Linked DNA regions of Homo sapiens. The protein of the gene in region 1 interacts with the protein of each later gene in a biochemical or structural test. Each region holds a gene or a part of one and is shown in the gene's direction. Other genes may lie near its edges. The genes, in order: RIPK2, BIRC2, BIRC3 and YWHAG.

Region 1 (7,681 bases):
TAATGTCCCATGATTGCAATTCAAATCTGACGCCAACCCTGCCACTTATTAGTGTGACCATTAGAAAAGTATTAATTTTTCTGAGCCTTAGTGCCCTCATTTATAAAGTGGAGCTAATGAAACTATGTTTAGAGGGTGATCTTAAGATGCTAGTGCATATAAAGTGACTGACATGTAATAGGGTCACAGTGGAAAGAAGAATGCCTCTTAATGGGAGGAGGAAAGAGTGTGTGAAGTGTCACTGAGACTTCTGCAGCATGCACTCTCTATTGTTCTTAGTATCCAGGAATCTTCAGGGTCATCCTCTATTGTTGGCCTAAATCTCTTGGGGCAGATATGGAACTATTTCCATCTAGGGAATAAACATTTAATTAAAATGGGTCTCACAAACTGATACTGGTTTCCTAGCAGTTGGAGTATTAAGTGATTGAAGGACAGAGAATGAGAGAAGCTTTTCACTTTATGCCTTCTTGTTACTCTTGAATTTTAAGACATATAAATATATGACCTATTCAAAAAATAAATGACGAAGATTCTTTTGCTTTGTTTTTTTGTTTGTTTTTAAAAGTAGTCCTCTTAGTCTGGTCTAGAATGTCTGTTGCTATTCATATTTCAACAGCCATTCATTCAGAGCTTGGGAGGTGTAAGAACTAACTTATCATCATTACTTACCTAATAGGCTTCTCCTGGAAACATTTCTATTTCTGTCATTGCTGCAGCCAACATCCAGTCACTCAGGGTAAAAAAATAATGACATCTCCAATTCCTTTTCATTTTTTTTTTAACCCCCTACAGTCAGTCACTACAACGCGGGCATTCTATTCACTTAGTGTTTTTCTTTCCATTTCCACTGCTACCTTTGTAGTTTTAGGTTCATGTATTAACTGGTATTAAAATCTCCTAACACCTGACTTTCAAACTCTACCACTTTCTACTAATCCTACATCTTGTTGCCAAATTGATCATCTTAAAATTGTATTCTACTGTCATTCCCCAACTCAAAAACTTTCAGTCACACCAGGTACATTGGCACACCCCTGTAGTCCCAGCTACTCAAGAGGCAGAGTAGGGAGGGCCAGTCTGGGCGACATAGCAAGATCTGGTCTGTTAAAAAAAAAAAAAGTTTCCAGTGTGTATTCTGTATGTTAAAAAAAGCAAACAAACCGTCAATCACTTAGTGACTGCTAAGTGAAGTTTCACCACCCTAACCAGGCTTTAAGACTGAGATATGTCCCTAACCTGTCTTATTCACCTTCACTCCTTTTATATTACATAAAAGGAGTGCATTAAACAATTCACAATTTCCCAACTTTAGCCTTCCCTTTAATTTCCTTGAAATCATTTGATACCTACCTATTGGACGTCTGATACAATTGAGCCCAGGAGTTTGAGGCCACCCTGAATAACATAGTGAGACCTTGTCTCTACAAAAAAAAAATAGGCACGGTTGCATGCCTGTGGAGCTAGCTGGCTGCTGGGGAGGCTAAGGTGGGAGGATGGCTTGAATCCAGGAGTTTGAGGCTATAGTGAGCTGTGATCACACCACTGCACTCTAGCCAGGGTGACAAAGAAAAATAGAAAAAAAAATAGTTAAATATATATTTGTTTTACATATGAATAAACAAATGAACCTGGGAGCCAGTTACCCCAGCAGTCTATTAATATTATTGAGCATTTACCTGTTCTCAGTGATCTTTTCCTGAGTTCTGGTATATAATTTATAAATATTACTGACTTTTATGCAGCTATTGAATCTATAACATTTAAAGGTTTTAATATTCAGGATATTTGGAAAATGTTTATATGGTATGCAACCATAAAATTTAATATAATATTCTAATAAAACATGCTCATTTGAATACAATGTAAACTTAATCATGTAATTAGTTCAAGCACCAATTGTTCTAACATAGATAGACTTTATAAATTTAATACTATGTTCTTTCCCATTCCTGGGATAAGTACAATAATAATAAACCTGTGTTTAGCACTTTTACCTGTCAATGGCTTATAGAAGTTAGTTTGGTCTCTAAACAGACCTGTGGAATATATAGGGTAGGTATTATTTCTATTTTAAATATGATGAAACTAAGGTGCAGAGAAGTTGCATAATTTACATGAGGTCACATAGCTAATTAATGAAAAAAAATCCAGGCTTAGTCTTATAGGCATGATAATTGTATATTTTTTTATTACTTGAATAATTATGCATTTTTTTTTCTTAGTGAAAGAAAGGATGTCTTAAGAGAAGCTGAAATTTTACACAAAGCTAGATTTAGTTACATTCTTCCAATTTTGGGAATTTGCAATGAGCCTGAATTTTTGGGAATAGTTACTGAATACATGCCAAATGGATCATTAAATGAACTCCTACATAGGGTAAGTATTACACAGTTTTAGTGGCCATAATTGCCATTTTTACTATTCAAACTATATTTTACTTTGATTTTATATTTGGTCAGATTATTTAGGGGTATATAGATGAATCAAAGAATAATGAAAAACTATCACAGGGATAAAATTTTACCTTTTGTGACATTTTTGTGTTGATTAAAACACTGTGGATTCAGGCCCTGTACTCTAGATTATTTTGCCTGGGTTACCATTCCTAACATTTATACCAAATTATAGTATTTACATGCATATTACATGGGTAGAAATGGAAGAGATAAACTCTGCATACTGTAAAATCCACTGTTAAGTGATATTTTATTTTATATTAATAGCAATTTCAAATTCAAATTTAATGTTATTAATACCAGTTCATAAAGTTCTGAATTAGCAGGCCAAATATTAATAAATTATCTCTGAATACCAGATACATTAGCTTTTCTAATAATAGACAGTGGTATCAGCCATTTACCCTTTTTCCCAAGGTACCAGTCACTCTCTCTTTGATTATGAATCCCTTGAGTAAACAAATTCAGGGGTCCTCATTCTCAAAATACATGTATTCATTATTAATATTATCATGAGTCTGTAGTTTCAGTAGATCTTTTTAAACTACTTGGTCCATTTTTTGAGGGTTGGCTTAATTAAAACTGTATTAATCTACAAAATCCAATCAATAGATACTCATAAATGATAGTGTAACACAATGCCCTGTAAGTGGCCAAGGGAAAGTGGGTGCCACTGTCAGTCAGTCATAGAGTAACTTCCTCTCAGTTTCAGAATACATCACATTCTATTCATGACTTGTGACCATTTGAAACAAGGATGGAATAAGTAACTGGTGTCAGTCTGTAAGATTTGTATAACTACCACAGAGCCAAGATACAAATATTAATAAATCACAATTTCTCTTTTATTTTTGTTGAGAAATGAGTATAAGTAGAAATCTAACATTTTCTTCCCACACCCCAGCAGATACTCTGGCACCCAAATTTGCAGCTCGCTGGAAATTCTACAGCCTCCTCAAGGGGGATTGCTAACTCCTGGAAAAAAAATCATAAAATATACAGTGAGCACTTCTCTCCCTTGTCTCCATGATCACAAGCCCCCATATTATATTATGCTGCAGAGAGGCCTGGTAACTGCTTTAAACTGCATAATTTTCAGAAAAAGTTACCTTTTTTACAGATTAAAAGATTAAGTTTCTCTAGGGGACAGGCCTCTGTGTATGCCAGAGAAAGTAATGTTCCACGTCAGCTTTTTGTGTTTCTTTTGGTTTCCTGTATTGCATTATTTAGGGTGGGATTTATCTTGAAGTGCCCTCCCCCAACCTCACAAAATTCATTGAGAAAACTCAAGATGTATCATAAACAGTCTAAAATATTTTGAACCACTCCCCCTGCCAGATTGATCACTGAACTATAAGCTGACGCATTTGCAGAAAAACTTCTCAAGAACAGTTTTGTACTTTCAGTAGAAGCAGTCTTTTTCATAGCATTTAGAAAAATGTGGTATGGTGCCTGGTGATTCATCGTGGATCTTCCCAAATTGCCTGATCTTCCAAAGTATGTTCATTCTCCTGGGAAGCCACATTAACTTTTATGTTCAGAAAACATTTATTTTAAGAAAACTCAGATGGATATTATTTGAGTACTATGAAAAATAAAATGTTATGTTTTAAATGTGTCTGTTCTATACAGTTTTAGAAACAAAAATGAGTGTCCCTTCCACAAAAACAAAACAAAAGGCTAATTTTATAAGCTGGAATGCAGATAAATTAATTATATGATTAAATGTATGATAAATTAATGCTTAGTCAATAAATACAATATGATCATAATTTGTAACTGATGCAGTGATTATAATGTATGATTTTATAGTAATAGAAAAATTAAAATACAAATTTTGAATGAATGCCTTGGTATTTACTAGAAAAAAACTGTCTGTAATTTTGTGTGTATTTGTGTGTACTCAAATTACCTGATTAAGACATAGAATGAGGAGGTGGATGTGGGTGTAAGTATATGACTCTGGCTATATACAGATACAAAGTAATTGAGATTTGTGTCAGCTGAAGAAAGACCCAAAACCATGTAGTTGCATGACCAATATAAACTAAAAGGAAGTATTGGTGCCATAAAGTTATCATAATTTTCTCTATAAAGTGAGGAAAGTAAGACACAAAAATGTTAAACCCTATCAAATTGGTGCTATTTTATAAAAATGAGCATATGTTTTAACCTTAGTTTATACTGTATTTCCTCATGGAATATTTAACTTTCTAAGTGTGAAACATAGTGAAATTTGGACTAATTTCATTTTCTTTCTTTTCACATATATATGAAGAAAACTGAATATCCTGATGTTGCTTGGCCATTGAGATTTCGCATCCTGCATGAAATTGCCCTTGGTGTAAATTACCTGCACAATATGACTCCTCCTTTACTTCATCATGACTTGAAGACTCAGAATATCTTATTGGACAATGAATTTCATGTTAAGGTAATTACTTTTTTAAAAAGTTTATGTTTCCTTGTCCTTATAGTTTTAAAAATACTTTTTAGTTATTTCTTCGACCTAGCCAATTTCATGTCTCTCCTTAGAGATAGAGACTAATGAATAGTAATTTCCATAGCCCCTAATTTCTATCTTCTATTCTCCTTCTTCCTACTGCAGTTAGGAAGTTATTCCTAGACAGAGATAGAATTATGGTACAAAATACAAAGCCATTATGTTTCTTAATTGAATTGTCAAGATCACCTTTTTTTTTTACTTTTTATTTTAAAATTATTATATATTTATAGGAAGTTGCAAAGGTAATAAAGAGGTTTCATGTATCCTTCACCTGGTTTCCCACATTGTTATATCACACATAATTATAGTATAATTTCAAGACCAGGAATTTGACATTAGTACAATGTGTGTTCATAGTAACCGCAACAATCAAGGTACAGCACTACTCATAACATCACCACAAAGATAACACTCATCCTACCTCACCCACTTCCTCCCTACCACAATCTGTACCCCTAACAACCACTAATCTGCTTTCCATCTCTTTAATTTTGTCATTTTGAAAATGCTATATAAGTGGAATCATATAGTATGTGATATTTTGAGATTGGCTTTGTTCACGTCACATAATGCTCTTGTGATCCGTCTAAGTTGTGCTTGTAACAATAGTTGTTTTTTATTGATAAGTAGTATTCCACAGTATAAATGTACCAAAGTTAACCATTCAGGAACATTTTGGTTCTTTCCATTTTGGGGTAATTATTTACAAAGCTGCTGTGAACAAAGCTGTACAGGTTTATGAGTGAACATAAGTCTTCATTACTCTGTGATAAATGCCCAAGAATGCAAATGCTGGGTCATATGGTAAGGGTGTGTTTAGTTTTTAAAGAAAGTATCCAACTATTTTCCAGAGTGGCTGTACCATTTTACATTCCACCAGCAATGTGTGAGAGATCCAGCTATTCCGCATCATTTTCTAAAGGGATTCTTTGGTTTTCTTACTGTTGAGTTTTGAGAATTCTGTATATGTTACAGTAGTAGTTCTTCATCAGATATGTAGTTTGCAAATATTTCCTCCCAGTTATAGTTTATCTTTTCATCCTTTTAACAGGGACTTTCACAAAGCAAAATGATAATACCAAATGCCCACCAGCATTTGGTATTATCACTGTTTTCTGTTTAGCTGTTCTAATAGATGTGTAGTGATATCTCATCTTGGTATTAATTTGCATTTTCCTAACTGCTAATGATATCGAACACCTTTTTATATGCTAATTTGCCACCCATACGTGGTTTTCAGTGAAATGTCTCTCATGTCTTAAGCTCATTTTCTAAAGGGATTCTTTGGTTTTCTTACTGTTGAGTTTTGAGAGTTCTGTATTTGTTACAGTAGTAGTTCTTCATCAGATATGTAGTTTGCAAATATTTCCTCCCAGTTATAGTTTGTCTTTTCATCCTTTTAACAGGGACTTTCACAAAGCAAAAATTTTAATTTTGATGAAGTCCATATTTTTTCTTCTATGGATCATGCTTTTGCTGTCATCTCTAAGCACTTTTCACCAAGTTCTACTTACTGAAGATTTCCTTTTTTGTTATCTTCTGTAAGTTTTATAGTTTTATGTTACATATGTAATCTGTGATCCACCTTGAATTCATTTTTTAATAAGATGCAGGACTTAAGTGCTGAAGACACTGGCTATTGTGATTTCACAGCTATACTATATCTAACTGAGTGTAAATAAAAAGTAGTTTTTGAGTAATTAATACTAAATGTAACTCACCATATTTTTATGTATCATTTTGCTATACTTCTTTTAATAACATGTAATCAGAAAATTATTATAAATATAAAAAATGTTCAAAGAAATCAGTAATAGAGAAGTTGAAACAACAGGGAAATTAAAACAAGAAATGTGAGAGAAAATAAGTGGGAAAAATTTTTATTGAAGACACTCCTCTCCTTAGAATAAAGTGGTAGGGGAAAGGAGAGAGAAGCAAGCTGCTGCCTCAGTATTGCTAAGAAAAAAAGAGACTAATCTATTCCATCAATTATAGAACCATCAAGTAGAAATACCTTAATGGTCAACTAGTTCTCTGATACTTCACTGCAACAATCCCTGTCTCCCAAAGCAGTTATCCTGTAACAGGGAGTCTTAACATCCTTAATTGAATAATTGTGACATTTTCTTAAATGATCAACCAAAATTCCTTCCTGGTTGCTTCCACACATTGATCCTAGTTCAACTTTTTGTGATAAACAGAATAAATCCAATTTAGTTACTTCAGCAAGACAGCCCTTTCAATATTTGAAGATAGCTATGAGCTGTCTCCCAAACCCTCACGTACAAGTGCATTTTATCCATCTCCCTGATAAATACCCTTTAGTTCCTTCAACTCGTTTTCTTATTACATGGATTTTAATCCTTGGTGCTATGTAGATGCATCATTTTGTTTAAATCTCACTTAAATGTTGATCGTCAGAACTGAACACAATACTATTTTTGGTGCGGTTTGATGAATGCAGACTTTAGTGAAAGTGTCATTTCCTTGGCCCTAAATACTTAATAGTTCCTTAATAATTCATCAGCTTTCCAGGGGTAGTCATATCACATAGTTCAAATTGGGCTTAGTGTCAACAAAAAACCCTTGGAGGTTCTTTTTGCCACGTATCGTTGCTTAAGCCACCTCTTCTTAAGCAACAAAGTACACAAAATAATGTACTTTGCAGAATACTTTCTAGATATGATCAAATTTTATCTTGTTAGATTGGAGCAAT
Region 2 (7,681 bases), on another chromosome or scaffold:
CCTGAATATAAACTGAGATAAATCCAGTAAAGAAAGTGTAGTAAATTCTACATAAGAGTCTATCATTGATTTCTTTTTGTGGTAAAAATCTTAGTTCATGTGAAGAAATTTCATGTGAATGTTTTAGCTATCAAACAGTACTGTCACCTACTCATGCACAAAACTGCCTCCCAAAGACTTTTCCCAGGTCCCTCGTATCAAAACATTAAGAGTATAATGGAAGATAGCACGATCTTGTCAGATTGGACAAACAGCAACAAACAAAAAATGAAGTATGACTTTTCCTGTGAACTCTACAGAATGTCTACATATTCAACTTTCCCCGCCGGGGTGCCTGTCTCAGAAAGGAGTCTTGCTCGTGCTGGTTTTTATTATACTGGTGTGAATGACAAGGTCAAATGCTTCTGTTGTGGCCTGATGCTGGATAACTGGAAACTAGGAGACAGTCCTATTCAAAAGCATAAACAGCTATATCCTAGCTGTAGCTTTATTCAGAATCTGGTTTCAGCTAGTCTGGGATCCACCTCTAAGAATACGTCTCCAATGAGAAACAGTTTTGCACATTCATTATCTCCCACCTTGGAACATAGTAGCTTGTTCAGTGGTTCTTACTCCAGCCTTTCTCCAAACCCTCTTAATTCTAGAGCAGTTGAAGACATCTCTTCATCGAGGACTAACCCCTACAGTTATGCAATGAGTACTGAAGAAGCCAGATTTCTTACCTACCATATGTGGCCATTAACTTTTTTGTCACCATCAGAATTGGCAAGAGCTGGTTTTTATTATATAGGACCTGGAGATAGGGTAGCCTGCTTTGCCTGTGGTGGGAAGCTCAGTAACTGGGAACCAAAGGATGATGCTATGTCAGAACACCGGAGGCATTTTCCCAACTGTCCATTTTTGGAAAATTCTCTAGAAACTCTGAGGTTTAGCATTTCAAATCTGAGCATGCAGACACATGCAGCTCGAATGAGAACATTTATGTACTGGCCATCTAGTGTTCCAGTTCAGCCTGAGCAGCTTGCAAGTGCTGGTTTTTATTATGTGGGTAAGAAGCAAATAACTATACATTTTATCATTTTATTTTAATTTACATATTAGAACATACGTGTTTTCAATATTTAGTCTTTTTTTTCCTGAAGGTCGCAATGATGATGTCAAATGCTTTTGTTGTGATGGTGGCTTGAGGTGTTGGGAATCTGGAGATGATCCATGGGTAGAACATGCCAAGTGGTTTCCAAGGTAATTGTTTTGAAAAAGGTATTTGTACAAAAAACTCTGTGCTTAAAAGAAGTAGGCATGCCTACATGATTTTGTTTACCTTTAAATTATAACAAAGCCTCTTTTATGCCATTGGGGAATTATCCTTCTAAAAGATCACATTTTAACTTTAATTATTTTGTTGAAAAATATTCTGCAGTCTTCTGTGTACTTTTGTAAGTCAGTTACAAGTATGACCGTACATTTTATTTATTTCCCATTTCTTTTAAAGAGTACTTAAGGATTACAAAGACATATAAAATAGATTAAAAAGACGTTAGAAAAAGGTAAGAACAGGAAAACAAGAAGGGACATAGAATGGATGCAGGAATAAGTCAAATGTAAAAGTCCATGTATTAAGAGCATATCTTAGATGGGCGTGGTGGCTCACACCTGTAATCCCAGCACTTTGGGAGGCCGAGATAGGTGGATCACCTGAGGTCAGGAGTTTGAGACCAGCCTGACCAACATGGTGAAACCCCGTATGTACTAAAAATACAAAAACTAGCTGGGCGTGGTGGCGCGTGGCCGTAGTCCCAGCTTCTCGGGAGGCTGAGACAGGAGAATCGCTTGAGCTCAGGAGGCGGAGGCTGCAGTGAGCCAGGATTGTGCCACTGAACTCCAGCCTGGGTAACAGAGCAAGACTCTGTCTCAAAAAAAAAAAAAAAAAAAAAAAGAAAAAAGCATATCTGACTGCCCATTTTAATTGTAATTGTAAATTATTTTTTCTGTACAATTTTTTTTTGTCATTTACCTCCTTTTAGCCACTTTGTCTCTAGCAGTGTCTTTTTTTATTATAGCCTAGAAATAATTTAGGGGCAGTGTTATTAGTAGAAATAGAATTAAATTGTCTTTGTAATTGAGTAGCTATGTGAACTTGGACGTTGTTTGTAAAATGAGGAGGGGTTGGCCTAGATAATTTTTTAAAATAGTGATAAAATAGGCATAACATTTACCATCTTAACCATTTTTTAAGTGTATAGTTGTGTGTCATTAAGTACATTCTTAACCGTTCTGCGATTATACCGCTATCCATCTCCAGAACCTTTGCATCTTCCCAAACTGAAACTGTCTACCCATCAAGTACTAATTCACCATTATCCCATTCCCCAACATCCTGGCAACCACCATTGTCTTTCTCTTTTTTTTTTTTTTTGTTTTGTTTTTTTTGAGACGGAGTCTCACTCTGTCACCCAGGCTGGAGAGCAGTGGCGCGATCTCGGCTCACTGTAAGCTCCACCTCCCGGGTTCACGCCATTCTCCTGCCTCAGCCTCCCGAGTAGCTGGGACTACAGGCGCCCGCTGCCACGCCCGGCTAATTTTTTGTACTTTTTAGTAGAGATGGGATTTCACCATGTTAGACAGGATGGTCTCGATCTCCTGACCTCGTGATCCACCCACCTCAGCCTCCCAAAGTGCTGGGATTACAGGCGTGAGCCACCGCGTCCAGCCCTTGTTTGTTTTTTTGAGGTGGAGTCTCACTCTGTCATCCAGGCTGGAGTGCAGTGACACGATCTTGGCTCACTGCAACCTCCACCTCCCAGGTTCAAGCGATTCTCCTGCCTCAGCCTCCTGAGTAGCTGGGATTATAGGTGCCTGCCACCATGCCTGGTTAATTTTTTTGTATTTTTAGTAGAGACAGGGTTTTTAGTAGAGACAGGGTTTCACCATGTTGGCCAGGCTGGTCTTGAACTCCTGAGCTCAAGTGATCTGCTCACCTTTGCCTCCGAAAGTGCTGGGATTACAGGCATGAGCCACTGCCCCCTGCCGCACCATTCTATTTCTGTCTCTATGAATTTGACTACTCTAGGCATCATATATAAGTGGAATCATACATCACAGATTATGTTTTTACCTGTGAGTGTCTTTCACAATAATGAAGAATCTCTTGAACCCCTTCAGGAAATTTAAAAAGTTTTCGTCATTTTGTATGATATATGATGAAAAAGAAACTTGAAGTAACAAATACTTTATTATGGATCAGTACATTGTTAAAAGTTGTATTTTAAAGTTATTAATATTAATAATATATCAAGATAAATTTTGACTTTTTTACACTGAAAAATGACTAAATTATTAATTATGTTTAAAATTAAAAAGCATGTTTTATCAGACTTTTAAATGACTTAATTATGTTGGGCTCTATGGGATTATATACATTAATTTGAAATTTAATCCATGTTGTGGTATCAAAGACAAAAACAGCTTCCAAATTCCAGTGTTGGAACTGCTACATTTTGTACCTTATAAAACAAAATCAAAATCTTTATTTTTGTAACTTGTGTTTTGTTTTAAATGATTAAGGGAGAAGATGTAGGGGCGTGTTTTGTAAATGCTTCTCTGAAAACAACACATTTCTTTTTTCCTTTTTTTTATTTTTTTGAGACAGTGTCTCATTCCATCACCTATCACTGCTGGAGTGCAGTGGCAAGATGGCAGTTCACTGCAACCTCCACCTCCTGGGTTCAAGCCTCAGCCCCCCGAGTAGCTGGAATTATAGGCACACGCCACCACACTCAGTAGTTTTTGTATTTTTAGTAGAGACGCAGTTTCGCTATGTTGGCCAGTCTAGTCTCAAACTTCTGACCTCAAGTGATCTGCCTGCCTTGGCCTCCCAAAGTGCTGGGCTTACAGGCATGAGCCACTGAGCCCAGCCCACATTTCAACTGGGAATAATCTTTAATCTCAGTAAATCCATCACCTTATGTAGTAACTTTCTTTTTTTTTTTTTTTTTTTTTTTTGGTGAGAACTCTTAAAAGATGCTCTTTCGCAAATTTCAGGTATAAGGTCCAGTATTATTAGCTATAGTCACCATGTGCTGTACATTAGATCCTCAGAAAGTTTGTGTTCTTTAACCAACATCTTCCCATTTCACCTACCCCCTTATCCCTGGCAACCAGCATTCTACTCTCTGTTTCTGTGAGTTTGGTTACCATACAGTATAGTTGTCCCTTGGTATGCTCGGAGGACTGGTTCTAGGACCCCCATGTATACCAAAATTCGCACATACTGAAGTCCAGAAGTTGACTCTGCAGAACCTGTGCATCCAAAATTCAGCCCTCCAAATATGTGGGTTTCACATCTGCAAATGTGATCTGCATTTGGTTGAGAAAAATCTGGGTGTAAATGGACATGTGCAGTTCAAACCTGTGTTGTTCAAGGGCCAGTTGTATTTGTCTTTCTCTGGCATATTTCACTTGGCATAATGCCTTCCAGGTTCATTCATGTTGCAGATGGTAGGATTTTATTTTATTTTATTTATTTTGAGATGGAGTCTCACTCTGTTGTCCAGGTTGGAGTGCAGTGGCACCATCTAGGCTCACTGCAATCTCCACCTCCTGGCTTCAAGCGATTCTCCTGCCTCAGCCTCTTGAGTAGCTGACATTATAGGCACCTGCCATCATGTCCGGCTAATTACTCTGTTTTTGTAGAGACGGGGTTTCACCATGTTGGCCAGGCTGGTCTCAGACTCCTGATCTCAAGTGATCCACCCGGAGTGGATGGGATTATAGGCGTGAACCACCACGCCCAGCCAGGCTCATCCCCCATTCATCCCTTAGTAGACACTTAAGTTGTTTCCATATAGCTGCTTGAACATGGGAGTAGAGATATCTCTGAGATACTGATTTCATTTCCTTCAGATATGTACACAGAAGTGGGATTGCTAGATCATATGCTAATTCTATTTTTAGTTTTTTGAGCAACCTCTATACTGTTTTCCATAATGACAGTAGTAAATTACCAACAATGGTCAAGGGTTCCCTTTTCTTCACATCTTTGCCAACTTTTGTTATTTCTTGTCTCCGATGATAATAAGGCATCATTACAGGTGGGAGGTGATATTTCATTTTGGTTTTAATTTGCATTTCCCTGATGATCAGTGACATTGAACACCTTTTCATGTACCTGTTGGCCATTTGTATATCTTTGGGAAAATTTCTGTTCAGGTCCTTTGCCCGTTTTCTAACCTGAATTATTTGGGTTTTTTTTTTTTTTTTTTTTTGCTATTGAGTTGTATAAGTTCCTTAAATATTTTAGATATTAACTCCTTATCAAATGTATAATTTGCAAATATTTTCTCCCATTCTGTAGGTTGCCTTTTTATTTTGTCGATTGTTTCCTTTGCTGAGCAGAAGCTTTTTAGCTTGTTGTAGTCGCAGTTTATTTTTGTTTTGGTTGCCTGTGCTTTTGGTGTCATACCCAAAACATTATTGCCAAGACCAGTGCCAAGGAGCTTTTTAGCCTACGTTTTCTTTAAGGAATTTTATGGTTTCTGGATTTATGTTTAGTCTTTAATCCATTTCTAGTTAATTTTTGTAGGTGGTATAAGATAGAGGTCTGGTTTTATTGTTTTACATAAAAACGGTGTTGGATATCCAGTTTTCCCAACACCGTTTGTTAAAGAGACTTATCATTTCAACATTGTGTGTTCTTTGTGCCCTTGTCAAAGATTAATTGATTGTATATGTGGCTTTATTTCTGGGCTCTCTGTTCTGTTGGTGTATGTCTTTGTTTTTATGCTAGTATCATATTGTTTTGATTACTGTAGCTTTGTAATATAGCTTGAAATTAGGAAGTATGATGCCTCCAGTTGTTTTTTTTGTTTGTTTTTTCTCAAGATTGCTTAGGCTATTCTGGGCCTTAAGTTCCGTACAAATTTTATGATTGGTTTTTCTATTTCTGTGATAAAAAAGTCATTGGAATTTTGGTAGGGATTATATTGAATCTGTAGAATGTTATGGGTAGTATGAACATTTTAACAATATTCTTATAATTTAAGAACACGAGATTGTTTAAAAATTTATTTCTGTCATTTTCAGTTTCCTTTATCAGTGTCATATGTTTTTCATTGTGTTTCTCTTTTACCTCCTTGGTTAAATTTATTCCTAAGTATTTTATTGTTTTGGTGCTGTTGTACATGGGATTACTTTCTTAAGTTCTCTTTCAGATAGTTCATTGTTAGTACTGACTTTTGTAAGTTGGTTTTGTATCCTACAACTTCTGGATGGTTTATTAGTTTTAACTGTTTTTGGTGGCATCTTTAGGGTTTTCTATATATATAAGATTATGTCATCTGCAAACAGAGAGTTTGACTTCTTCCAGTCTGATTTGGATGCCTTTTTCTTTTTCTTGCTTAATTGCTCTGGCTAACCCTTCCAGTATTATATTGAATAGACGTGGCAAGAGTAAGCACCCTTGTCTCGTTCCTCATGTTAGTGGAAAAGCTGAAAGCTTTTTTTTTTTTTTTTTTGAGATGGAATTTTGCTCTGTTGCCCAGGCTAGAATGCAGTGGCGCAATCTGAGCTCACTGCAACCTCCACCTCCTGGGTTCAAGTGATTCTCCTGCCCCAGCCTCCCGAGTAGCTGGGATTACAGGTGCGTGCCACTGCACCCAGCTCATTTTTGTAATTTCTTAGTAGAGATGGCGTTTCACCATGTTGGCCAGGCTGGTCTCCAACTCCTGACCTCGTGATCCACCTGCCTCAGCCTCCCAAATTGCTGGGATTAGAGGCGTGAGCCACTGCACCCGGCCAGCTTTCAGGTTTTCATTATCGAGTATGATGTTAACTGTGCACTTGCCATTTATGGTCCTTATGTTGAGGTATATTCCTTCTATAGCTAAATTGGTGAGAATTTTTATCCTGAAAGGGTGTTGAATTTTGTCAAATGCTTTTTCTGTGTCTGTTGAGATGTTTATATTATTATTATTATTATTAATTTTTTTTTTTTTTTTGAGATGGAGTGTTGCTCTGTCACCCAGGCTGGAGTGCAGTGATGCAATCTCAGTTCACTGCAACCTCTGCCTCCTGGGTTCAAGTGATTCTCCTGCCTCAGCCTCCCGAGTAGGTGGGACCACAGGTGCATGCCACCACACCCAGCTAATTTTTGTATTTTTAGTAGAGATGGGGTTTCACCAGGCTGGTCTCAAACTCCTGACCTCAGGTGATCCACCCATCTTGGCCTCCCAAACTGCTGGGATTACAGGCGTGAGCCACTGCACCTGGCTGGTTATATGATTTTTATCCTTCATTTTGTCAATGTGTGGTATCACATTTATTGATTTGCATATGTCATACCATCCTTGCATCTCAGGGATAAATCTCACTTGATATATGATTCTTCTAGTAGGCTGCTGAATTCGGTTTGCTAGTATTTGTTGAGGATTTTTGCATCTGTGCTCATCAGGGCTATTGGCATATAATTTTCTTTTCTTGTGTTGTCCTGGTCTGGCTTTGGTATCAGAGTAATGCTTGGCTTCATAAAATGAGTTTGGAAGTATTCCCCCCTCCTCCCTCCTTACTCCCTCTTCCCTCCCTCTTCTTCCTTCTTCCTCCTCCTCCCTTTTCTTTCTTCTTCCTCCTTCTTTCCTCCTCCTCCTCCTCTTCCTTCTTCTCCTCCTCTTCCTTTCTTCTTCTTTCT
Region 3 (7,681 bases), on another chromosome or scaffold:
ATTTCCACAAATATATGCCTTGCTGGAGTGCAGTGGTGTGATCTTGGCTTACTGCAACCTTCACCTCCCGGGTTCAAGTGATTCTCCTGCTTCAGTCTCCTGAGTAGCTGGAAATACAGGTGCGTGCCACCACGCCCGATGGTTTTTTTTTTTGGATTTTTAGTAGAGACAGGGTTTCACCATGTTGGCCAGCCTGGTCTCGAACTCCTGATCTCAAGTTATCTGCTTTCCTTGGCCTCCCAAAGTGCTGGGATTACAGGCGTGAGCCACCACGCCTGACCTAAAGCTTCTTTAGGATAAGATTTGTGTAAGGGGTTTGCAAACTCAAATGGAGGTGATATAAATGAGAAAAACTCTCAGTGTCTCTCTTTCTCTCTCTCTCTCTTTTTTTGAGACAGGGTCTTGCTCTGTCACCCAGTTTGGAGTGCAGTTATGCAGTCTCACACTGCAAGCTCTGCCTCATGGGCTCAAGTGAACCTCCTGCCTCAGCCTCTCAAGTAGCTGGGACCACAGGCAGGTGCCACCATGTCTGGCTAATTTTTGAGTTTCTTTGTAGAGATGGTGTTTTGCCAAGTCACCCAGTTTGAGGCTGGTCTCAAACACCTGGGCTCAAGCAATCCATCTACCTCAGCCTCCCAAAGTGCTGGGATTACAGGAGTGAGCCATGGCATGAGGCCTTGTGGGGTGTCTCTTTTAAATGAAAGCATACTCTGTTTACGTATTTGATATGAAGGAATATCCTTCCTTTCCACAAAGACAAAAATTATCCTATTTTTCTCAAAACATATGTCCTTTTTCTCTACTTTTCATTTTTGTTACTTTTGATGGACACATGTGTTACATTGATTTCACTTTCTCATAATTCTGCTGTAAGAAAAACAATAGTGCCAGTTCAATGACAAATAGCAACAGTCTGTTATTGCTAGACTGTTACTGTTAGTGGAGACTACCAGAACAGTCAGTCCCAGTGTCAGGGAATCAAAGAGAACATGTTCCCTCTCTAAAGGGCACAGCTGCTGCTCAGCTTTAGCTGATTGCTGCCCTGCAGGACTATAGGCCCAGTGTTGCTAGATCTTTTGATGTTTCAAGAGAAGCTTGGAATCTAGAATGTGATGGGAAGTCTCTTACATTTAAACATGTTGGCAATTAATGGTAAGATTTAAAAATACTGTGGTCCAAGAAAAAAATGGATTTGGAAACTGGATTAAATTCAAATGAGGCATGCAGATTAATCTACAGCATGGTACAATGTGAATTTTCTGGTTTCTTTAATTGCACTGTAATTAGGTAAGATGTTAGCTTTGGGGAAGCTAAGTGCAGAGTATGCAGAAACTATTATTTTTGTAAGCTTTCTCTAAGTATAAATAAATTTCAAAATAAAAATAAAAACTTAGTAAAGAACTATAATGCAATTCTATGTAAGCCAAACATAATATGTCTTCCAGTTTGAAACCTCTGGGTTTTATTTTATTTTATTTTATTTTTGAGACAGAGTCTTGCTGTGTCACCCAGGCTGGAGTGTAGTGGCACTATTTCGGCCCACTGCAACCTCCACCTCCCAGGCTCACATGATTCTCCTGCCTCAGCCTCCGGAGTAGCTGGGATTACAGGCGCGTACCACCACACCCAGCTAATTTTTGTATTTTTAGTAGAGATGGGGTTTCACCATTTTGGCCAGGCTGGTTTTGAACTCCTGACCTCAAGTGATCCACTTGTCTTGGCCTCCCAAAATGCTGGGATTACAGGCGTGAGCCACTGCACCAGGCAGAGGCCTCTGTTTTTTATCTCTTTTTGGCCTCTACAGTGCCTAGTAAAGCACCTGATACATGGTAAACGATCAGTAATTACTAGTACTCTATTTTGGAGAAAATGATTTTTTAAAAAGTCATTGTGTTCCATCCATGAGTCGTTTGAGTTTTAAAACTGTCTTTTTGTTTGTTTTTGAACAGGTTTACAAAGGAGGAAAACGACTTCTTCTAGATTTTTTTTTCAGTTTCTTCTATAAATCAAAACATCTCAAAATGGAGACCTAAAATCCTTAAAGGGACTTAGTCTAATCTCGGGAGGTAGTTTTGTGCATGGGTAAACAAATTAAGTATTAACTGGTGTTTTACTATCCAAAGAATGCTAATTTTATAAACATGATCGAGTTATATAAGGTATACCATAATGAGTTTGATTTTGAATTTGATTTGTGGAAATAAAGGAAAAGTGATTCTAGCTGGGGCATATTGTTAAAGCATTTTTTTCAGAGTTGGCCAGGCAGTCTCCTACTGGCACATTCTCCCATTATGTAGAATAGAAATAGTACCTGTGTTTGGGAAAGATTTTAAAATGAGTGACAGTTATTTGGAACAAAGAGCTAATAATCAATCCACTGCAAATTAAAGAAACATGCAGATGAAAGTTTTGACACATTAAAATACTTCTACAGTGACAAAGAAAAATCAAGAACAAAGCTTTTTGATATGTGCAACAAATTTAGAGGAAGTAAAAAGATAAATGTGATGATTGGTCAAGAAATTATCCAGTTATTTACAAGGCCACTGATATTTTAAACGTCCAAAAGTTTGTTTAAATGGGCTGTTACCGCTGAGAATGATGAGGATGAGAATGATGGTTGAAGGTTACATTTTAGGAAATGAAGAAACTTAGAAAATTAATATAAAGACAGTGATGAATACAAAGAAGATTTTTATAACAATGTGTAAAATTTTTGGCCAGGGAAAGGAATATTGAAGTTAGATACAATTACTTACCTTTGAGGGAAATAATTGTTGGTAATGAGATGTGATGTTTCTCCTGCCACCTGGAAACAAAGCATTGAAGTCTGCAGTTGAAAAGCCCAACGTCTGTGAGATCCAGGAAACCATGCTTGCAAACCACTGGTAAAAAAAAAAAAAAAAAAAAAAAAAAGCCACAGTGACTTGCTTATTGGTCATTGCTAGTATTATCGACTCAGAACCTCTTTACTAATGGCTAGTAAATCATAATTGAGAAATTCTGAATTTTGACAAGGTCTCTGCTGTTGAAATGGTAAATTTATTATTTTTTTTGTCATGATAAATTCTGGTTCAAGGTATGCTATCCATGAAATAATTTCTGACCAAAACTAAATTGATGCAATTTGATTATCCATCTTAGCCTACAGATGGCATCTGGTAACTTTTGACTGTTTTAAAAAATAAATCCACTATCAGAGTAGATTTGATGTTGGCTTCAGAAACATTTAGAAAAACAAAAGTTCAAAAATGTTTTCAGGAGGTGATAAGTTGAATAACTCTACAATGTTAGTTCTTTGAGGGGGACAAAAAATTTAAAATCTTTGAAAGGTCTTATTTTACAGCCATATCTAAATTATCTTAAGAAAATTTTTAACAAAGGGAATGAAATATATATCATGATTCTGTTTTTCCAAAAGTAACCTGAATATAGCAATGAAGTTCAGTTTTGTTATTGGTAGTTTGGGCAGAGTCTCTTTTTGCAGCACCTGTTGTCTACCATAATTACAGAGGACATTTCCATGTTCTAGCCAAGTATACTATTAGAATAAAAAAACTTAACATTGAGTTGCTTCAACAGCATGAAACTGAGTCCAAAAGACCAAATGAACAAACACATTAATCTCTGATTATTTATTTTAAATAGAATATTTAATTGTGTAAGATCTAATAGTATCATTATACTTAAGCAATCATATTCCTGATGATCTATGGGAAATAACTATTATTTAATTAATATTGAAACCAGGTTTTAAGATGTGTTAGCCAGTCCTGTTACTAGTAAATCTCTTTATTTGGAGAGAAATTTTAGATTGTTTTGTTCTCCTTATTAGAAGGATTGTAGAAAGAAAAAAATGACTAATTGGAGAAAAATTGGGGATATATCATATTTCACTGAATTCAAAATGTCTTCAGTTGTAAATCTTACCATTATTTTACGTACCTCTAAGAAATAAAAGTGCTTCTAATTAAAATATGATGTCATTAATTATGAAATACTTCTTGATAACAGAAGTTTTAAAATAGCCATCTTAGAATCAGTGAAATATGGTAATGTATTATTTTCCTCCTTTGAGTTAGGTCTTGTGCTTTTTTTTCCTGGCCACTAAATTTCACAATTTCCAAAAAGCAAAATAAACATATTCTGAATATTTTTGCTGTGAAACACTTGACAGCAGAGCTTTCCACCATGAAAAGAAGCTTCATGAGTCACACATTACATCTTTGGGTTGATTGAATGCCACTGAAACATTCTAGTAGCCTGGAGAAGTTGACCTACCTGTGGAGATGCCTGCCATTAAATGGCATCCTGATGGCTTAATACACATCACTCTTCTGTGAAGGGTTTTAATTTTCAACACAGCTTACTCTGTAGCATCATGTTTACATTGTATGTATAAAGATTATACAAAGGTGCAATTGTGTATTTCTTCCTTAAAATGTATCAGTATAGGATTTAGAATCTCCATGTTGAAACTCTAAATGCATAGAAATAAAAATAATAAAAAATTTTTCATTTTGGCTTTTCAGCCTAGTATTAAAACTGATAAAAGCAAAGCCATGCACAAAACTACCTCCCTAGAGAAAGGCTAGTCCCTTTTCTTCCCCATTCATTTCATTATGAACATAGTAGAAAACAGCATATTCTTATCAAATTTGATGAAAAGCGCCAACACGTTTGAACTGAAATACGACTTGTCATGTGAACTGTACCGAATGTCTACGTATTCCACTTTTCCTGCTGGGGTTCCTGTCTCAGAAAGGAGTCTTGCTCGTGCTGGTTTCTATTACACTGGTGTGAATGACAAGGTCAAATGCTTCTGTTGTGGCCTGATGCTGGATAACTGGAAAAGAGGAGACAGTCCTACTGAAAAGCATAAAAAGTTGTATCCTAGCTGCAGATTCGTTCAGAGTCTAAATTCCGTTAACAACTTGGAAGCTACCTCTCAGCCTACTTTTCCTTCTTCAGTAACAAATTCCACACACTCATTACTTCCGGGTACAGAAAACAGTGGATATTTCCGTGGCTCTTATTCAAACTCTCCATCAAATCCTGTAAACTCCAGAGCAAATCAAGATTTTTCTGCCTTGATGAGAAGTTCCTACCACTGTGCAATGAATAACGAAAATGCCAGATTACTTACTTTTCAGACATGGCCATTGACTTTTCTGTCGCCAACAGATCTGGCAAAAGCAGGCTTTTACTACATAGGACCTGGAGACAGAGTGGCTTGCTTTGCCTGTGGTGGAAAATTGAGCAATTGGGAACCGAAGGATAATGCTATGTCAGAACACCTGAGACATTTTCCCAAATGCCCATTTATAGAAAATCAGCTTCAAGACACTTCAAGATACACAGTTTCTAATCTGAGCATGCAGACACATGCAGCCCGCTTTAAAACATTCTTTAACTGGCCCTCTAGTGTTCTAGTTAATCCTGAGCAGCTTGCAAGTGCGGGTTTTTATTATGTGGGTAAGAAACTGAATCTGCTAATTAAAAAAAATATATTTCATTTTATACATTTTAGTGGGCAAATTATGTGTATTCATAAGTTTTGGTCTAAAATTAATTTTAGGTAACAGTGATGATGTCAAATGCTTTTGCTGTGATGGTGGACTCAGGTGTTGGGAATCTGGAGATGATCCATGGGTTCAACATGCCAAGTGGTTTCCAAGGTAATTGTTTTGAAATTCTCTTTGCAAATTCTTGTGATTATCATGAGATTGCTTATATGTGTTCACCTGAAATCAGTTGTTACTTTACTCTGTTCCAAATATATATTTGTGAATAAGTTTAGGATGGATTACTTAGTAAAATACTTACTTAAAAAGTTTCGATGGACTTAAGACAACGAAGAAATAGATTTGGGGATTTTTGTTTAATTTTTAAAGAAATATATATATATTTAAATAATACATGCTCATTATAAAAACAAAGTCACACATTGTAGAAAAGCACAGAGAAGGAAAATTAAAATGTCCAGAAATCTTACCGCCTAAGGATGAGCATGGTTACCACTTTAGTGAACATCCCTCCAGACATATAGAAATAAATGTATATGATACATATACATATAGAAATAAATACATATACATATAGAAATAAATGTACACCATTTTACATAAGTTAAATATTATATCTAGTTTTGAAGTTTTTTCAGTCAACATTTGTCTTGGATATATTTCCATTCATTCGGTATTCAATAATAATTGATCACCTATTGGCAGGCATTGTTCTGGGTGCATAAAATCAGTTGAACAAAACAAAGACCCCTGGTCTCCTAAGTTTTTATTATAGCACGAGAGAACAGACAACTAATAAAAACTTGAATAAGTTCTATAGCATGTTGGAAAATAAGTACAATCAATAAAAAGAACAAAGAGGAGTTTAGAAATGCCAGGCAGGTTACAATATTAAATTGGGTGGTCAGGGTAAGTATAGACTCATCTCATCTGTTTTAGTCGCCACGCAGCATTTTAATGTGATGTGTTACCCTTTTGATTGTTTAACTGGCCACCTAGTGTTCTAGTTAATCCTGATTAGCTTGCAAGTGTGGGTTTTTATCACGTGGGTAAGAAACTTAATGTACTAACTAAAATATCAGCTTCAAAAAGTTTTTTACACTCTCCTTTTTCATCTAAATCATGTGGCCTACAATTACATTTTTTCATGGTCAAAACTTTTGCTATTATTCAACCCGTTTCCCATTTGCCCTGAGAATACTGCACTGGCAACAAGCTGCACTGTTTTTTTTCTAAATGGGAAATGGGTTAATATCGATTAATAAATGTGGCATCTTAACTTATTTTGATTACTTTTTTTCCTCTTTTCTTTTGAGATGGAGCCTGGCTCTGTTGCCCAGATTGGAGTGCGATGGTGTGATGTCAGCTCACTGCAACCTCCGCCTCTTGGGTTCAGGCAATTCTCATGCCTCGAGCCTCGCTAGTAGCTGGGATTACAGGTGCACGCTAGCATGCCCAGCTAATTTTTGTATTTTTGTAGAGACAGGGTTTCACCATGTTGTCCAGGCTGGTCTCAAACTCCTGACCTCAGGACTTTGAGGTGCTTGCCCGGCCAACATCAGTGTGTTTTAAGAATCTTAGAAGAGTTGAAGAGAGTAGCTAAGAGCTCTGAGGAGAGATGGTCTTACTTGACCTCAGTAGACTGAGGGGCTCCTGACCCTTGTCCACTTGAGCCTTGGTAGATAACTAGTAATCACCTTCCTCTTGCTTATATCAACCTGCCTTTCACTGCAATATCTCTGACCATTCCCTATATGCTAAATGAATAGTAAATTGATTATATGTACATTTATACTCATTTGAAATATTTATACTTCACAATATATTAAGAGTAAATTGATTATATGTATGTTTATACTCACTTGAAATAGCCAGTCTACAAATGGCTGGATTAGTCCTGCCCAAATTAAGATAAACCTTTAGAACTTTTCAAAATTAGCTGAAGTGGTCGGGTGCAGTGGCTCATGCCTGTAATCGCAGCACTTTGGGAGGCTGAGGCAGGAGGATCACTTGAGGTCAGGAGTTCGAGACCAGTATGGCAACATGGTAAAGCCCCATCTCCACTAAAAATGCAAAAATTAGCCGGCCATGGTGGCAGGCACCTGCAAGCTCAGCTACTCGGGAGGCTGAGGCACCAGAATCACTTGAACCTGGGA
Region 4 (7,929 bases), on another chromosome or scaffold:
TAGCTGTGATGACCATGCCCAGCTAATTTTTAAATTTTTTTTTTTTGTAGAAATGAGGTCTTGCTATGTTGCCCAGGCTAGTCTCGAACTCTTGGCCTCAAGTAATCCTCCTGCCTTGGCCTCCTGAGTAGCTAGGACTACAGCTACATTCATTTCTTGTTTTTCTTTCTTTTTTTTTTCTTTTTTGAGACACAGTCTCACTCTGTCGCCCAGGCTGGAGTGCAATGGCACAATCTTGGCTCACTGCAACCTCCACCTCCTGGGTTCAAGCGATTCTCCTGCCTCAGCCTCCCGAGTAGCTGAAACTACAGGCACACGCCACCACGCTTGGCTAATTTTTGTATTTTTAGTAGAGACAGCATTTCACCATGTTGGCCAGGCTGGTCTCAAACTCCTGACCTCAGGTGATGAGCCCACCTCGGCCTCCCAAACTGCTGGTATTACCGGCGTAAGCCAGTGCACCTGGCCATATTCATTTATTTATTTCCTATTCTCTCTCTATGTACTTATCATGTGCCAGGTACTCTGCTGAGCACTGAGAAGCCAAGGTGAGGATGAAAAAGACAAAACCCAAATCTGATCATTTTCTGCCATTGTTAAAATCTCTTCACAGGCTTCCGATTAATTTCAGAATAGAAATTTAACTCCTGGGGCTGCCATTCAGTGCCCCTCATGTTCTGGCCCCTGACTCTATCCCCAGCCCCTTACCCATCACCCAGACACCAGATACATCAGATTCTTTGCCTATCAATAAATATTTCAGGGGAGATGGGTGTGGTGGTGCATGCCTGTAGTCCCCACTACTCAGGAGGCTGAGGTGGGAGGATCACTTGAGCCCAGGAATTAGAGGCTGCAGTGAGCTATGATCGTGCCACTGTACCCCAGCCTGGGCAACATAGTGAGACCCCCACCTCTAAAAAATAAGTACATAAATAAATAAGTCAGGGAGGAACTTGCCTTTGAGTCTTGCTACCTGTGCCTTTGCCTGCTCTCAAATCCTACACTCATTTAAAGGCTGGGTTGGAAATGTTACCAAACTCCCTGGAGAAGCTTTTCAGAATCTCTTCCTATGCAGCCTGAAAGAAGTTATTTTTTAAACAAAATATTTACAGTGCTTAACACACTCTGAATTCCTTGAGGACAGGGGTCCTCCAGCATCTGGCATAGAGCCTGCAATATTCCCCCATGGAAACTCTTTCATTCCACATTCTCATCCACACTTCATGTTTCCTATTTTATTTTTCACTTCTTATTGATTTTTTTGTTGTTATTTAGTTTTTATTTCATAGTCACAAACTTAACTCTGCAATCCACCCAGACATGGAAGGGAATAAGAAAATCATGGGACTCAAAGGGAACTGTAGCAAGAACACAAAGATGATAGGATACTGGGAGCAAATGGGGTGGATGGATAGGTGCTCTCCTGAGCTACTGAAGGAATGGTCTGGTGGTTAAGATAAAACACAAGTCAAATTTACTAGAGTTGTCCACAGTCAGCAATGGTGATTTTATTTTATTTATTTATTTATTTTTTAGAGGGAGTTTCACTCTTTTTGCCCAAGCTGGAGTGCAATGGTGCAATCTCAGCTCACTGCAACCTCTGCCTCCCAGGTTCCAGCGATTCTCCTGCGTCAGCCTCTGGAGTAGCTGGGACTACAGGCACCTACCACCACGCCCAGCTAATTTTTGTATTTTTAGTAGAGACAGGGGTTTCACCATGTTGGCCAGGCTGGTCTCGAACTCCTGACCTCAAGTGATCTGCCCACCTCGGCCTCCTAAAGTGCTAAGGTTACAGGCGTGAGCCACCGCGCCCGGCCATAGCAATGGTGATCTTCTTGCTGGTCTTGCCATTCCTGGACTCGTAGCGCTCCATGGCCTCCACAATATTCATGCTCGCTTTCACCTTGCCAAAGACCTCCATGCTGGCCATCTAACCACTTAGTCTTGGCAGTGCAGATGAAAAACTGGGAAGCATTTGTGTTGGGTCCAACATCTGCCATGGGCAAGATGCCAGGATCTGTATGCTTCAGGATGAGGTTCTCTTCATCGAATTTCTCCCCATAGATGGACTTGCCACCAGTGCCATTATGGTGTGTAAAGTTACCACCCTGACACATAATCCCTGGAGTAATTCTGTGAAAGTAGGAACCCTTGCCGGGCGTAATGGCTCACACCTGTAATCCCAGCACTTTGGGAGGCTGAGGCGGATGGATCATGAGGTCAGGAGTTCGAGACCAGCCTAACATGGTGAAACACCGTCTCTACTAAAAATACAAAAATTAGCTGGGCGTGGTGGTGCGCGCCTGTAATCCCAGCTACTTAGAAGGCTGAGGCAGGAGAATCGCTTGAACCCGGGAGGCAGAGGTTGCAGTGAGCCAAGACTGCACCACTGCACTCCAGCCTGGGCTACAGAGCGAGACTCTGTCTCAAAAAAAAAAAAAGAAAAAGAAAAGAAAAAAAAAGAGAGAGTAGGAACCCTTATAACCAAATCCTTTCTCTCCAGTGCTCAGAGAACGAAAGTTTTCTGCTGTCTTTACAACACTGTCTGCTAACAGCTCCGATATGTTAACATGGCTTTACAGTTTAGATGAGAGGTCACTTCTTTTTTTTTTTTTTTTTTTGAGACGGAGTCTTTTTCTGTCTCCCAGGCTGGAGTGCACTGGCACAATCTCGGCTCACTGCAAGCTCCGGAGAGGTCACTTGGCTTCTTGGTTTCCATGCCCCTAACCTTGAAGGAGACGCAGCCCAAGGGCTCAATAGTAATGTCAAAGAACACGGTGGGATTGACCATGGCCAGTAGTAGAGTACTCCTGGCAGCAGCAGAGTCTGCAAAGCTCACTTTTTTTTTGTTTTGTTTTTTGATATGGAGTTTCGCTCTTGTTGCCCAGGCTGAAGTGCAATGAAACGATCTCGGCTCACTGCAACCTCCACCTCCCAGGTTCAAGCAATTCTCCTGCCTCAGCCTCCCAAGTAGCTGGGATTACAGGTGCCCACCACCACACCCAGCTAATTTTTGTATTTTTAGTTGAGATGGGGTTTTGCTACGTTAGCCAGGCTGGTCTCGAACTCCTGACCTCAGATGATCCACCCGCTTCGGCCTCCCAAAGTGTTGGGATTACAGGTGTGAGTCACCGTGCCAGGCCAAAGCTCACTTCTTTTTTTTTTTCGAGACGGAGTCTCGCTCTGTCACCCATGCTGGAGTGCAGTAGAGGGATCTCAGCTCACTGCAACCTCCGACTCCCGGGTTCAAGTGATTCTCCTGCCTCAGCCTCCCGAGTAGCTGGGATAACAGGTGGGCACCACCACGCCCAGCTAGTTCTTTTGTATTTTTTGTAGAGACAGGGTTTCACCATGTTGGCCAGGATGGTCTCGATCTCCTGACCTTGTCATCCGCCCGCCTCGGTCTCCCAAAGTGCTGGGATTACAGGTGTGAGTCACCGTGCCCAGCCTTTAAAAAACTTTTTATTTTATTATTTGTTTTTGAAACGGAGTCTTGCTCTGTCGCCAGACTGGAGTGCAGTGGCGCAATCTCAGCTCACTGCAACCTCAAAACTCACTCCTTACTGACTTCTAGCATACTGTACATATCTCACCTATTTTCTTGGGCAGGGATTTTTGTCTGTTTTGTTCACTACTGTACCTCGTGGCTTAGAATAGGGCTTGGAACACAGTAGCTTCTCATAGATAATTGTTGAATACATAAAGTAAATAAAATGTGCAGTCAAAACTATCAGGCCTGCAGGCATGGTGGCTCACATCTGTAATCCCAGCACCTTGGGAGGCCGAGGCGTGAGGATCGCTTGAGCCCAGGAGTTCGAGACCAGCATGGGCAACAAAGCTAGACCCCCGTCTCTACAAAAAAGCAAAACAAAGCAAAAAAACCCATGCTATCTGCAAGCTATGTGGAATAATATGAACGAGAATATATCAGCGTGACCTCAGTAGGTATGTATGTCTTAGGAGGGGAGAGAAGGGCTGGACAACCAAGCCCTAGACGCAGCCCAGTTAGATGTGGAGTAGGCTCCTGGTAGCTGAACTCAATCTTTAGCACTCCACCCTGGAGAGGAAGAAGGGGTTCTCCAGGGTCAGCCAGCAGACAGCTGCATCCTTTCTGGAAATCAACCACTGTGGCCAGCCGGTATTTGTCGTTCGTCCATGTTTTCACCTATTCAGGCCCAAGAGCCTCAAGGTGGGGTGGGGGGTTTAATGGAAGCTCGTAGGGGGTGGAGGTGACAGTCCCCAGGGTCTGGCCCCTTAATTCGGCCATCCCGCGGGCAGGCACCACACTGAGAGTCTGGATCTACAATGGACGCGCCTCCTGTCCTTCCCCCACCACGACCTGCTACGTGATCTCGGAAACAGGGTCTAGGACTGAGGCCCCTGCCCCCTCCTCTCGTAATTTCCCGGAGAATATGGGGCGGGGCGGTGAATCAGCACTCGCAGGGACTGATGCAGCCCTGATCCCCGCCAGGGGTCCCCAGCGGCCTCGGGATTCGAAGCACCCCCCCCCGTCCTCCTGCGCCTGCGCGCTATGTCCGCTGGGAGTTGTAGTCTTGACCGCCCCTTTGTCCTTGGTCTCCTCAGCGCCTCAGTGCACTGCAGGTTACACTACAACTCCCAGGGGCCCATGCGTCCGAGGGCTGGCGGGGCGGGAGGCTCAAGGGGGAGGCGTAAGGGGGCGACTGGAGAAGCTGGGGTGAGGGAACTGGGGAGTGAAGTGAAAAAAGGGGAGAGTGGGGGCGCAGTGGGAAAGGACGGGGTGCCCGGAAGACGCGCAGTGAGCCCAGCTGGGGAGCGGGGAGTTCTAGCCGCGGCCGGGCTCGGGCGGGGCATGGGCGGGGCTTGCGGACGGGTGGGCGGGGCCTGCCTTCGTCATGCGGCGTGGGCGGGGCCGCAGGGGGTTGTCCGTCAGTGGCACGCACAGCAGCCGCAGCCGCCTCGCGCCCGGTCCCGCGGTCGCAGCTCCAGCCGCCTCCTCCGCGCAGCCGCCGCCTCAGCTGCTCGCTCTGTGGGTCGGTCCTCTCCGGCACTTGGGCTCCAGTCGCGCCCTCCAAGCCCTTCAGGCCGCCCCAGTGTCCTCCTCCTTCTCCGGCCAGACCCAGCCCCGCGAAGATGGTGGACCGCGAGCAACTGGTGCAGAAAGCCCGGCTGGCCGAGCAGGCGGAGCGCTACGACGACATGGCCGCGGCCATGAAGAACGTGAGTGTCTCCTCCCCTCCCCCGCCGCTCCCTGCCCCTCCGAAGACGCGGTCCTTGGCGTGGAAGGCCCGGGGCTTCGTCGCCCTGTCGCGATGGCGGGTTGACCGCCCCGTCTCGCTCACTGAGGGGGGCTGGGGAGGGTCCCGAGAGGCGACGGGAACCCGGGCTGTGACGCGGCCTCTTTTCGGAGTCCCCGTGGCCCCGCGGCGCTGCCATTCAGGCCCGGCGCGGGCGCGGGCCGGGGCGAGGTCCCGCGGGGCTGGACTTGGGAGCGGGGTCTCCGGCCCCCGCGGCTCTAGGGGTGCAGGGGACCCGAGCGGGGAGGCGTGCGCATCCTTTGTGCCCCACTTCCCCCCTCCTCCTAGCCTGGGCGTGGGGGCGGGGGACCGCATGGATGCGGTTCCTCTTTCTCTCCCTGGTGTCTGGGCGGCGCCTTTCCCATTCACTCAGCAGGTCTCCCGGTTTTCCACCTCCCCAGCCCCCCCAGAATCTTCCCCACTGTCTGTCCCGACACATCCCTGAGAATCTTCCCAGAAACATTGTATAGGGTCTCTTGAAAACCTGAGCTCCGTGGTGCAAAATCGAAACCACCTTGCTCACGTTTTTCTTAACAAAAGGCTCTTCTTTCTCCATTCGCCCAAAGCAAGTCCTCCGGCTTTTAGGAAGGGAGAACGTTTGTCTCGCTAGCGTTTTCATTGATCATTCTCAACATGTCATCTCCATTTTATTCCCTAATGTTTTTGTATTGAAAAGGGTAGGTATTGCCTGTAAAATTAAAAGGTGGTGAATGTAGCTGACTGGTTCGATTCGTGTGACATATGCCGTTTCTTTTTTGAATACAGGCACGCGTCTGTTGAAATTCCTATAAGTTGGGGGAAAAAATATTCTGTCTGATCTGATAGTGCAAACAAAGCCGTGGTGAGAGGCAGTATCAAGTCATTCCAGAAGATTCTGCATTTGTCATATTGCAGAGAGCCTAGACTGGGTGGAGGCTGGGAGGAGTTATTTTAAAGGGGAAAAAGTCTTTTTAAAAATTTTTGGTTGTTAGATGCATCTGAGGCTTTTTTTTGTTTAAGCGAGTACATCTTCATGCTGATGAAAAGAGAATACCGATCGCCAGTTGTCGCATTTTGTCTGGGTTGCAGATTCATCCCTGTATTGCACCATTTTGTCAGTAACACCACATTTATCTAATGGGCTGTCAACCAGTTTGATATTAGAGGAGGGGGAAGTATTGAGCATTATGAAATGAAAGGTAGAAAATTAATCTAATGATTTCGGGCCCCCACTATCTTAATATTTAATTTCCTGCCTTATGTAACAAAGATTTTCAAATTCATCTCCATTGTGAAGTGGATGCTGGAGTGTACCTTGCGTGTTACATCTTTTAAATGAAGCATTATTGATATTACAGATCAATTCTTGAATAAATTTACTGGTTCTCAAAAGAGGACAATGCTGATACCTTTATATTTAAAGCAGCTATGTTAACAAAGAAAGGTTTTTGTCTTATTGAAGAGAACTGATTCTGAAATTCGGAATACTGCTGTGGCCACAGTTGCTGTCTTACAAGGTTTTAATGCTTAAATGATGTAAGTTGCACTTCTAATAGGTATCAGTATTGGAAATATCTTCAGTTCGTGTTATTTAGACTCTTATAATTTTTCCATATTTCTTTTCCATATTTCTAGTTCCACAGGAAAGCGAGTGACCTCGCACCTATATCCATAGCAACCAAGTGATGTCACACACAATGACACAGAGGCTGCAATGCACCTAAGGGCTGGTAGGGAGTGTGCAAATGGCATTTATCCAAGGTAATGCAGAAATTAGCCGATAAGCCAGGTGGAATCGAGCACTTCATATTCCACTAGATGAGAATTAGTCCAAAAAATAAGGATATCATTTACCCTTAGACATGCAAATCTGTGACCTCTAGCTAGGCCTTGTTCACCCTATTGCTAGCTTTCTCACAAAAGTTTATAAGATGCTTTTTTATATTTTTAAACATTCATCTCATTTATTTAAAATACTGGGCAATGATGGAATAAAAGTAGAAATTTTAAACGATAATTTATGGAATAAAAGAAATTTTAAACAAGAATATAGTTTATGACACTAGTGCACAGATGGGATGTATACTTGTGTTTATTGCAGATAATTAATTTGGCAGGTTTTAATAAAAACCTTAAAAAAATGATGACTTCCTACTGAGTCATTTTCAGTTACTAGTAGGGAATGAAAACCCGTTCCAAAACCTTTTAAGTTGAGATTTGGGAAGTTTGTTTTTTACTAGATTTGTGCTTCTGCTCCTTCACAGTATAGAGGAAAGAACAGTTTGTAAAATAAAAACCTTTTTTCAAATCTGTTTCCTGTGACTTTAAGGAAATAGGCTCTGTCCCTCATTTTCCTCATCTGTAAAATGGGACAATACTTGAAAAAGTTGTGCGGATTCAATAAGAAATGTAGTAGGTGTTCCAAAATGGCAACTACCTAAGAAATTTTCTTCCTGTTTATAAAAGTCATCGTGGAGAATTTGGAAACTGCAGAGAAAGAAACCAATCTTACCACTCAAGTGAGCTCTCTTTTAAGGCCGAAATCATCCTGTTGATAAAGGGATTAAAATTTATTTGAGTTTAATGAAATTATCCTAGTGCTAACACTATTGGGATCTGTGCAGAATGATAGTTCTTTGTGGGTAACCAGGACAGAAGTACTGTATTGTGCAGT

What was found.
Region 2: the proteins of RIPK2 (region 1) and BIRC2 form a complex in vitro, tested with the Homo sapiens proteins (4 studies listed by BioGRID, with this or other methods).
Region 3: the proteins of RIPK2 (region 1) and BIRC3 form a complex in vitro, tested with the Homo sapiens proteins (2 studies listed by BioGRID, with this or other methods).
Region 4: the proteins of RIPK2 (region 1) and YWHAG form a complex in vitro, tested with the Homo sapiens proteins (one study listed by BioGRID).

What each region holds. Positions count from the first base shown.
Region 1 is NC_000008.11:89,760,604-89,768,284, forward strand, and holds part of RIPK2 (receptor-interacting serine/threonine-protein kinase 2), read left to right. Parts: intron 1-2,225; coding exon 2,226-2,379; intron 2,380-4,737; coding exon 4,738-4,893; intron 4,894-6,405; exon of another isoform or gene 6,406-6,506; intron 6,507-7,681.
Region 2 is NC_000011.10:102,349,702-102,357,382, forward strand, and holds part of BIRC2 (baculoviral IAP repeat-containing protein 2), read left to right. Parts: 5' UTR 1-153; coding exon 154-1,048; intron 1,049-1,142; coding exon 1,143-1,242; intron 1,243-7,681. UniProt on the Homo sapiens protein: Multi-functional protein which regulates not only caspases and apoptosis, but also modulates inflammatory signaling and immunity, mitogenic kinase signaling, and cell proliferation, as well as cell invasion and metastasis.
Region 3 is NC_000011.10:102,319,888-102,327,568, forward strand, and holds part of BIRC3 (baculoviral IAP repeat-containing protein 3), read left to right. Parts: intron 1-1,949; 5' UTR 1,950-4,622; coding exon 4,623-5,475; intron 5,476-5,578; coding exon 5,579-5,678; intron 5,679-7,681. UniProt on the Homo sapiens protein: Multi-functional protein which regulates not only caspases and apoptosis, but also modulates inflammatory signaling and immunity, mitogenic kinase signaling and cell proliferation, as well as cell invasion and metastasis.
Region 4 is NC_000007.14:76,355,992-76,363,920, reverse strand, and holds the start of YWHAG (14-3-3 protein gamma), read left to right. Parts: upstream 1-4,929; 5' UTR 4,930-5,112; coding exon 5,113-5,199; intron 5,200-7,929. UniProt on the Homo sapiens protein: Adapter protein implicated in the regulation of a large spectrum of both general and specialized signaling pathways. Binds to a large number of partners, usually by recognition of a phosphoserine or phosphothreonine motif.